Linked DNA regions of Homo sapiens. The protein of the gene in region 3 interacts with the protein of the main gene of each other region in a pairwise test. Each region holds a gene or a part of one and is shown on either strand. Other genes may lie near its edges.

What was found. Proteins that work in one complex are often made in the same cells at the same time.
Region 1: the proteins of RAP1GDS1 (region 3) and MBIP interact in binary tests that used the Homo sapiens proteins (3 or more experiments, as listed by UniProt).
Region 2: the proteins of RAP1GDS1 (region 3) and ZNF451 interact in a two-hybrid assay, tested with the Homo sapiens proteins (one large-scale study listed by BioGRID and IntAct).

What each region holds. Positions count from the first base shown.
Region 1 is NC_000014.9:36,307,019-36,310,637, forward strand, and holds part of MBIP (MAP3K12-binding inhibitory protein 1), read right to left. Parts: intron 1,172-3,619; coding exon 1,074-1,171; intron 1-1,073. UniProt on the Homo sapiens protein: Inhibits the MAP3K12 activity to induce the activation of the JNK/SAPK pathway. Component of the ATAC complex, a complex with histone acetyltransferase activity on histones H3 and H4.
Region 2 is NC_000006.12:57,096,688-57,100,306, forward strand, and holds part of ZNF451 (E3 SUMO-protein ligase ZNF451), read left to right. Parts: intron 1-2,373; coding exon 2,374-2,454; intron 2,455-3,619. UniProt on the Homo sapiens protein: E3 SUMO-protein ligase; has a preference for SUMO2 and SUMO3 and facilitates UBE2I/UBC9-mediated sumoylation of target proteins. Plays a role in protein SUMO2 modification in response to stress caused by DNA damage and by proteasome inhibitors (in vitro).
Region 3 is NC_000004.12:98,441,853-98,444,459, forward strand, and holds the end of RAP1GDS1 (rap1 GTPase-GDP dissociation stimulator 1), read left to right. Parts: intron 1-137; coding exon 138-265; 3' UTR 266-2,006; downstream 2,007-2,607. UniProt on the Homo sapiens protein: Acts as a GEF (guanine nucleotide exchange factor) for the Rho family of small GTP-binding proteins (G proteins) that stimulates the dissociation of GDP to enable subsequent binding of GTP.

The sequences.
Region 1 (3,619 bases), on a different chromosome or scaffold from region 3:
CTAAGCAGTATGCTAAGTGTTTGATCAGCATTATCTCATTTGATCTTTGCTTCAGCCCTTAGTATTTTCATAAACCTCATTTTACATTTGAGAGTAGTAAATCACTAAAACTCTTCTCTGAAATTTTGTCATTTAGGACTTGCTGCTCCCTTTTGTTACGTGACCTGCCTTCTTCTTCTGGAAATACTTCTTTTCTGTAACTCACTCTTATACTCAATCTATAACTTTGGAAGATTGCTGTCATACCTAAAATAAATTTTAAATATATTTTCACCACTAACTTATATGATCCATGCTAAAATGGGCTATCTCACATAATTTTTCAGAAATAGGAGTTTTGGTATAATCTCACTTTGATATTATTTTAGTTCTAATATGGTACTGCTTTAAAAAAAAAACAAAACTTAGAGAAGGCAGGTATTATACATAATCACCTCAGAAGACTGAGGAAAACACAATGAGCTCAGGATCATTTTTCTGAAAAATGTTGATGTGCCAAAGATACTAACTTACCAGCACAACACTGTTTCTTAAGGTTCTTGGAAAACGGGGTAAGAATGAATGAATGCTAGAGTTAAGGAATTACAAAAACATAGAAAGTCTGGTGGTTAAGGTAAAGAATAAGAGTGGCAGCTTGAGGTGTGTGTTTGTTTAGTATTAACTGCATATGAGCTGAGAGAAGGAGCCTGTTGGGGAAGAGAGATTAAAGAGGCAGAGGGATCACTGAAAGAGCAAGGTTACAGAGGAAGCCTCTGTTTTACAAGGTAGCAAGTTCAGAGTAACAGGCCCAACCACCACCCAGGCTGACTTACTATGCCATGAAAATGGCCTAAGTTTGAGAATGTGGGTAATATATAATAGAAGTATCCCTTTTTAAAAATTCTAAATTTTAAAAATATTCAGAACCAGAGATTTTAAGGAATTAGATATATCCCCTATACAGGACTGTGTTCATTCATCTTTGAATTATTAAAATAGTGTTTTGCTTATAGATCAATGAGTGACTGTTAAACCACAAAGAATCCAGAATACAATAACATTTTCATTTATTTTTAAAAGACACTTATACTCACTACAGACTGAAAATATTCAGGAGAGATGCCTTCCAATTCAAGGATTTTATCCTCAAGTTTTTTAATTCTCTGATAAATGTCTCTTGGCACTGGACCACCTAAATACATTAAAAAAAAATCTGAGATACTATTGAATAATTCTTTCTTTTCACAATTTTTATTCTTAAAATACCATGCAAAGACACTTATGCAAAGGAATGGAAAATACTTAAGAAAATAAAAAACAAAAGTAAAACAGAATGAAGTCCTTAGGTCGTATTTTTGTATTATACACTATCGGACATATTGTACTACACTTCCTCTCTCCAAACCCCATTTATGCTTCCTATATTCTAGGAGTTTCATGTTAAATTCATTTTACAAGATATTGAATAGCTTCCATGTAGAACAATTTATATTTCTGATATGCTTTGATAGTTACATGGGAGGACAAAAATGCATAGTGACAAATGACGATAATTCAATGCAGTGGTTGCAATATGTCATATTATTTTCTTCAATTAATATTTCTCCCTACATGCCATATTTTTCCTTTGACCTAAAAGAATGTAAAAAAGGGGCTTTACCATAATTCTAAACTAACAAACTTTCTGAGGAGGGGAAGAGTAAATTATGGCCACTCAAATTTTAAATTTATGATTATATCAAGAATCCTTCTACTTCTCACCCCCTCCACACTGTGGCCTTTCTGGTCCAGACCACTTCCACCTCTCCCTGGATTACTGCAACTCCCAAACTGGTCTCCCTGTTTCTGCCATGCTTCCGTAGAGTGTATTTTCAACACAGGAGCCAGTGATCCTCTAAAAATATAAGTTAGATCACATCATTTCTCTGCTTCCAATACCTGATCATTTCACTGAGGTTAAATACCTTCCAATACCTGATCATTTCACTCAGATTAAATACCAAAGCCCTCACAATGGCCTACAAGGCCATACACAATGTGGATATTCTCCCTATGCCCACATGGTTCCAGCCACTTGATTACTTTTTTTCTGTTATTCAAAGAGGCCAAGCACCCTGTAAGCTTCAGCTGGTTCCCTCTACCGCCATAATCCCAAGTCAATTTCAAGTCTTGGCTCAAAAGTTACCTTATCAGTAACACCTTCTCTGACTATTCTGTTAAAAATACCAGTACTACCACTCCCCTACCCAGCACTCCCTTATCCTCCTTACCTTAATTTTCTCCATTCCATTACTACCACCCAACATTCAGTATATTTTCTTTCTGTATTATTTGTTTCCCCATTCTAATATAAGCTCCAAGAGGACAGAGTTTTATCTGTTTTGTTCATTAGGTAGGGCTGTGCAGCTTGTGCACTGCACAAACCTAGGAAGCATCAGTTCATAAGACTACAATGCATGGCAAAGAGCTGGTGCTTGATATTTACTGACTGAATGAATACATGATTAGCCAATCATTATGCAATTAAAGAATACGGGTAAATTTCTATATCAAAATTGTCAACTTGTTATGTAAAAATTCTAGAAATTTTGAGGATTTTAAGAAATCTTAGGACCTTGGTTGTTCTTGTTCTTAAATAAGTTAACTTGTTCATTTGACTTTGCTTTTGCTGCTCCCTTTACCTACAATGTCCTCTGCCTTACTTCTGTATCTTTCAAGAGCCAGTTCAAGCTTCACTGGGTAACGCAGGCACTGCCGAAACCTCTTCATTCGCATAAAGGCTCCTTGTGCCCCCACCATTCTTCAGTGCTCCTGAGTTTTTTGGGACAGACTCTCACTATACTGTCCAGGCTGGTCTCAAACTCCTGGACTCAAGCTCTGTTCCCCACTCAGCCTCCCAAGGAACTGGGATTATAGGCACACACCACTACACCCATCCTTTCATTACTCCTTTAAAACTCTACTTCACTATTAATCTTTCTCTCATTTGGATTATAAAGTCCTTGAAGCTGGGGACTATGATTATATCATCTCAGTATCCCTTGTGCCTAAAATAGTGCTTGGAGCATAGTAAACATTCAACAGATATTTTTCCAAAAACTTAACTGTTTCATACTATTATTAGAGACTTAACCAGTCAATCCTTTTATACAGTGGCATTTTAAACCCATCCACTTCTGAGGGAAGAGATTAATTCTTAATGCCAGTGTCTTATTACTCTCAAAGACTTACTCATTCTGTTTTCTTCTTCTACCTTCATCTGGCTAGCATAGCTTCAGATAGCTAGTATACTCCAGCTATACTGGATTCAGATATCTCCTGAACCATATTTTGTGTTTTTGTCCTTTTTTGCAAATGGTGTTTCTTCTTTTTGGAATGCTTTGCTCTGGAAAATTCCTACTAATCCTTCAAGGCCTCAAATGTCACTTCATTAGGATGCCATCATCCCTTGACCTACCCTGAGAGAGTCAAACACTAACTTTCTGTCCCTCCGTACATACATCTGCAAAGGTGAAATAAGCAACTGTCCATTCAATAAACATTTGAGCACTTGCTTTGTGCCAGGCACTGTAATAGGTACAAAGAAATGAATATGACAGACATAGTTGCACTCTCACGGACTATCTAGCAGGAGACAGAC
Region 2 (3,619 bases), on a different chromosome or scaffold from region 3:
AGCAAAGTAAGATGATTATATCAATGGGAAAAGCTATCATTTTAATTTTTCTTCTTGGATCGAACATACAATTTTCAGTCTTTTTTTTTTTTTTTTTTTTTTTTTTGTGACAGAGTCTTGCTCTGTTGCCCAGGCTGGAGTGCAGTGGCACCATCTCAGCTCACTGCAGCCTCTGCCTCCTGGGTTCAAGCAATTCATCTGCCTCAGCCTCCTGGGTAGCTGGGACTACAGGTGCCCGCCACTACACCCTATTCCTATTTTTAGTGGAGACAGGGTTTCACCATGTTGGCCAGGCTGGTCTTGAACTCCTGACCTCAAGTCATCTACCCACCTCTGCCTCCCAAGGTGCTGGAATTACAGGTGTGAGCCACCGTGCATGGCCTACATTCTTCATACCAGATGTAGATTTTAAAGTAGGTGATTCAGCTCTGTTTACCATATATTGGAGAGTATTGCTTCCTCTGTTTCTTTAATTTTTACTTCCGTGTTTATAGTTTGAGCAAAAATCTCAATTCCTTTGCTACAGATCCCTGCCCAGTTTTGCCCTCTTGTTTTATCTTGGTATCTGAATTAGTACCCAAAAGATGGCAGTTTCTTGGTTGAGCAGAAGTCATAGCCTAGGGGAGAAAGAAGCTATCTTTGAGACTGGATGCCTATTCTAGGGAAGATCATTACCTAGATCTCAGCTTCTGTCTCCAGCAGTCAACTTTCTACATCCTACAAAATCCTTTCCTCAGCTATTATTTCTTCTGTGTTCCTTTCTTTTGTTTCCAACATACTGGATTTCTCAAAAGAATATGGCCTTTTCTACTGCATTCTCTAGTGTTTTAGAGCCTGGCTTCTGTGCTCACTACTTTCTTGAAAGTTGCTCTCTCAAAGACATTTAAAAATGTCTGGTTGCCACATTCAGTGGCATTTTATTGTTGCCGTGTTTCTGGCCACATTTAACACTGACAGCTTTTTATTGAGGCAATATGATAGTTCAGTTTAGTTCTAGAGTTTAATAGTCTTCTAGGGGAGCAACTCTCAAGTCTTTATTTCCAGGTATGTTCATACTTCCCAGATTACAGGCCTGCATTTCCAGCTGTCTGCTAGATACACCCTGTGTACCACTGTTACTTCAGCCCATAGGAATGTCAGCTTTCTGTTTCTGCTTTCCAAAGTTATACTATTGGCATTACTATTCTTATAGTCACCTGAGGTTAAAAACTTAGAGATCACTGACTCCTTGTTTTGTTTTTTAAATAATCTTTTAAATTTATTTTTATTTATATATTTATTATTATTATTATTATTATTATTGGGATAGTCTTGCTCTGTTGCCCGGGCTGGAGTGCAGTGGCGTGATCTTGGCTCACTGCAACTGCTGCCTCCCAGGTTCAAGCAATTCTCCAGCCTCAGCCTCCTGAGTAGCTGGGACTACAGGCACGCACCACCATGCCTGGCTAATTTGTACATTTTTAGTAGAGATGGAGTTTTACCATGTTGGTCAGGCTGGTCTCGAACTCCAGCCTGGCCAACATGGTAAAACCCCATCTGTACTAAAAGTACACAAATTAGCCAGGCATGGTTCTAACCTCAGGTGATCCCCCACCTTGGCCTCCCAAAGTGGTGGGATTACAGACATGAGCCACCACACCTGGCCTAATAATCAATCTCTTTTAGTTTTCCATTTTACTTGTATTCTCTTGTATATCCACTACCATACTCTTCTTGCCATCACCACCATTAGTTCTGCATTGTCATGTGCCTATACTGATTATCTTGCTTTCCCTGCTCTCCATACTCCTCTATGTGATTGATCTTGAAGCACAGTTCTCATGTTATTGTCTTATTATTATTTTTTATTTTCTTTTGCCTATTGAATAAAATCTAGGCTTTTAAGCCTGACATTCAAGGCCTGGTTGATGAAGAAATTGGCATGGATGGAAAGAAAGAATGGAAAAGAATTCAGGTTTGATGCTTGACTCTGCAGTGGTGGATGATGAAGCTGAGCTATAAGTCAATTCATTTTTGAACTTGGATATATTAACAGACTTTTGATACCAATTCTAGGTGTAAAGCACTGGATTATAATATTTGTGTCTTTGTAGCACTGTTCTTATATTAATTTTCCTTTCCCAAGTAATTGACATGGCCCTAATATTCTACAGGGGTGTAGGTGCTTCCTTTTAGGTCTTGTCATCATTTTACATTTATATATTTTGAATATTTTCCTCTGCTGCTTTTGTTCTGGTTATTTTCTGCTACCCACAAAGCTCCCTCTTCAGAGTAATTCTTGCCAGTCCCAACCAAAAAAAACACTGTAGGTTTAAATGCTAATTTGGTTTGAATAACTGTTAATGACTTCTAAATTTGCTTGATTGTTTATAGGAAGGACCATTACGACCTGTTCTTGAATACATTGATCTGGTCAGCAGTGATGATGAAGAGCCTAGCACCTCTTATACTGATGTAAGTACATTATATTTGATTTGTGTTTCTTCACTTGTGTCTTTTAAGAGGTATTCTCTAAAGAGAGTTACCAAATCAGGGAAGGCTGTGTTTAGAAATAGCCAGTTCTATTAGAATGGGCTAAAATAGGTAGTCCAAGGAGTCCTTTGCCCAGATCTCCTACTTCCAGTTTTTTTCCTCTACTTTGAATGAGATTATGAAAAAAATGATAATATGACTCTGGGAAATTCAGAGCCTTAGAGGTGATATCTGATAAAATGGAAATGGAATAAAAACTGCAAGCTTATTGATTCCTCTTTCCCTTCTCTTTTCCTTTACTCTCCTCAGGTGCCCTATACAACAGGATTCTTTTGTTCCAGAACCACATGACCACAGAAAATTTGTTTTCTCTTAGAAAAAAGGATATGTAGAGATCCTTTTAGGAATGGAAAGTGGGGGAAGGGTTTATAGGGGATATATTACTTCAGTCATCATCCCTTTAACCTTGTCTGTGCCCCACATATTTGGAGTTATTTATCTTACCTGTGATGTACTGGTTGTAGGTTTGACCCTTGGACCAATACTTCCCTTGCTCTGAGAATTGAACTAGTTGAGCCCTTTGTAACAGTCTTGCCTTTCATTTGTCCTTGCTTTAGCCCAAACTTCTGTTAATGAGCTGTTTTCATCTTGGATTAGAAAACTCTTAGTTATTGTTCAGAGTGGCCACAAACTTCTTGCTCTGTGATATAGGGGATTGAGACTTGGACTTGGAATCAGAATACCTGGGTTTGAGTCCCAGCTTTACTCTTTACAAATTCTGTGACTTTGGATAAATTAAGTAACCTTTTAGCCTCCGTTTTTTAATCAAATAATACCTACCTCACAGGGTTGTTGTGAGGATGAAATGAGGTAACAAATTATAACTTCTTATAACTACAAACCATAAAGTAGGACTATACAACTGGGAAGTTTTGTTATTCGTGGACAGTGAATGACAGAATTTTCAGAGGTGCCTAAAATGACTCTAATGGGGGAGTTTTAGATTTTTTTTCTTCTCAGTGGAACTTTCCTTAAGTTCTCTTTGCCATCATTAGCTTCTTGCATATCTTGAGTAGAACTTAACATATCTTGAATGGGATATTTTTTTCTTTTATTCTTATGAGTGGTCTCACACAGGACCAAACAG
Region 3 (2,607 bases):
GCTACTGCTATGTCTTTTTCCAGAATTGTTTCTAGTTTTATAAGCTTAGTCTTGTCAAAATAAACATTTTGGTATATGTTTTGGATAGACTTAGAACAACCTAACAGAATCATATCTGTTATTTTTTTGTCTTCCAGAATGTCTACACAAGGAAGTACAGGATTTGGCTTTTCTAGATGTCGTATCCAAACTTCGCAGTCATGAGAACAAAAGTGTTGCCCAGCAGGCCTCTCTCACAGAGCAGAGACTTACTGTGGAAAGCTGAGAACTGCCCGATACACGGCATCATCCCATCTCTAATTTCCCCTCTGTCCTCCATCCAGCGGCTTCTTCCGCTTCATTCTCTACCATACCACTTGTGCATGCATGTGATGTTCTAATACCAATTGAAGAACCGCTGTAGGTACCTCCCTAATAAGATTTCTAAACCTATAGTTAGTGTGATCATGACTTTGTCAAAGGCAAGTCTCCACCCATAACCGTTCTCTTGTATTCCTGTTGCTTGAGCTACATTAAGTAGAATGTGCATGTTGTAGTCCTATGATGATGTAAACTTGGTACTACATAATGACTTGCTCCACACATGCAGTAAACTACATAATGATGTACTGGTAAACTAGAAACAAAGAATGCAGCAGGATCTGTCTAGCTTATTAAAGATGAAACTGAATTGGAAAAATAGCTCCATTTTTTGGTGCTTGGGAAGCACAGTGACCAAAAAAGTTGTATGGCTGCTTATTCATTAGTCTTTCCTACTGATGTCAAATCCATGGTACCTAGAGTTAAATAAAATTCCAATGCTCTTACTCTTTAACTTCTGGTTTCTCCTTTTTCCTTTTTAGACTATTGAAACTGCCACAAACTTGGCAAGACTTTCTGAGGTTTCTGATTCCATATTTAATTGACTATTATCAATAGCCTGATATTGAAAAACATTTGTAGTTTTCAGTGTGAAACTAAGGGGTTGAAGAATCACTATTACAATCCCTATTACAGAGCATTTCGGGTTTTGCTTGTATTTTAGATTCTGATACATACGCTGTTTCACTCAGGAACTACTTCTACCAGTTAATCAGCATTATCCAGCACTTGTCTTTAAAATTCATTTGGCGCTTGTTTGTTTTCAACTGAGGAAATTGAGTATAGTTCATTGAAGAATGGAATTTTTTTTTTTTTTTTTTTTTTTGCTGTTTTTCATCATTCAGCTAGAAAGTGAGAAGTTTTATCTTCCATAGTCCTTTTAAATCTTATGTTAGAACTAGCAGGACGTAGGTGGAAAGATGAAGAAATAAGCTTGTCTAGACTAAAGAAAGGAAAGCAGGTTATAAAAGCCATAGTAGCCAGTCCAGTTCATTCTGCAGATGGCCCCATACCAATCGCTGTTAGAGTTTGCCACCTCCACTTTCCCACTGAGAACTGCAGCAATTTTAAAGGATATGAGAAAGCCAAGACTCAAGAGATGAGAAGACCCCCTTGGCGAAATATAGTGTACTCTTCACTGCCACTGCCACCACCAAATGGGTTTTTAGAGCTTTGAAACACAATCTTTGTAAATTAATCAAAACCTCCCTGTGACCCACCTGCCTTCTCCCCATACCCAAATTTGACCACTACTGGCCTAAAAGGCAAGATGGGCTTCGATATAGAAGGACTGCAAGACAGTAGAAAGGGCTGCCACGGAGGTGACAGTAGCTCCTTCCTCTCCAACATGTGATGCTACACATCTCTGTGGATAATCTAAGTTGGACTTTTGACTCTAAAACAGCTATAATCCAAGAAAGTTAAATTCTAATGGAGGTAAAGAATCTTGACTGATTGTTCCCTTTGATGTCCAAATAAGGGAACTATTGTGAGTACGTATGCTACACTTACTATAAGAATGATACTGTTTGTTGTCTTTCTCCTGGGCTGGATAGTGGACTATATTTTATTACAGGCTTTGAAAGACATCTGTAATGTTGCATATCTGTTCATATTAATAACTTAATAAATAGTATATGAAGCTATAATGGCATCATTTGGTTTGTTTGTATATTTTGTCTCTATTTCCAGCTCCTAGAATAAGGCTTGCTATTGATGTTCAACAAATATTTGTTGACTGAATGAATGAATCCTGCATCCATGAAGTTTCCAGACTGCCTGAACTAATTCCAGAAAGATAGACTGACTGACTGATAGAAAGTTTGAGATTTGATAGTTTGTCTGACTTTAGGGAAAAAATTTTAACAAAAGCATCCTAAAATCGTAAATGTGAGAGAAGTTACCATCTAGGCCAGCTGCCAGCCATCAATTTGCTAATATGCTAGGAACTCCCATCTCCAGCAAAATAAAGTGCAATTCAAAGTACTCATCATTGTACGGAAAGACCAGAAGGCTGTGCCCTTATCACAGGGGCTACCAAATTAGATGGTACACTGATGTGCCATTGCAGTGGATGGGAGAGTCTACAGACTGTACTCTCGCTTATCTCCTGCTACTAAATCTTAGTCCTAGAGGCCACTATTTATTAAGTTAGTTTGCTACCCACTAAGAGTACATTCTAAGGGAGACAACAGGAGGGAAGAACAGCACAACAAAGCTTTAACTGTCAATCTTGAGCCAGTACTA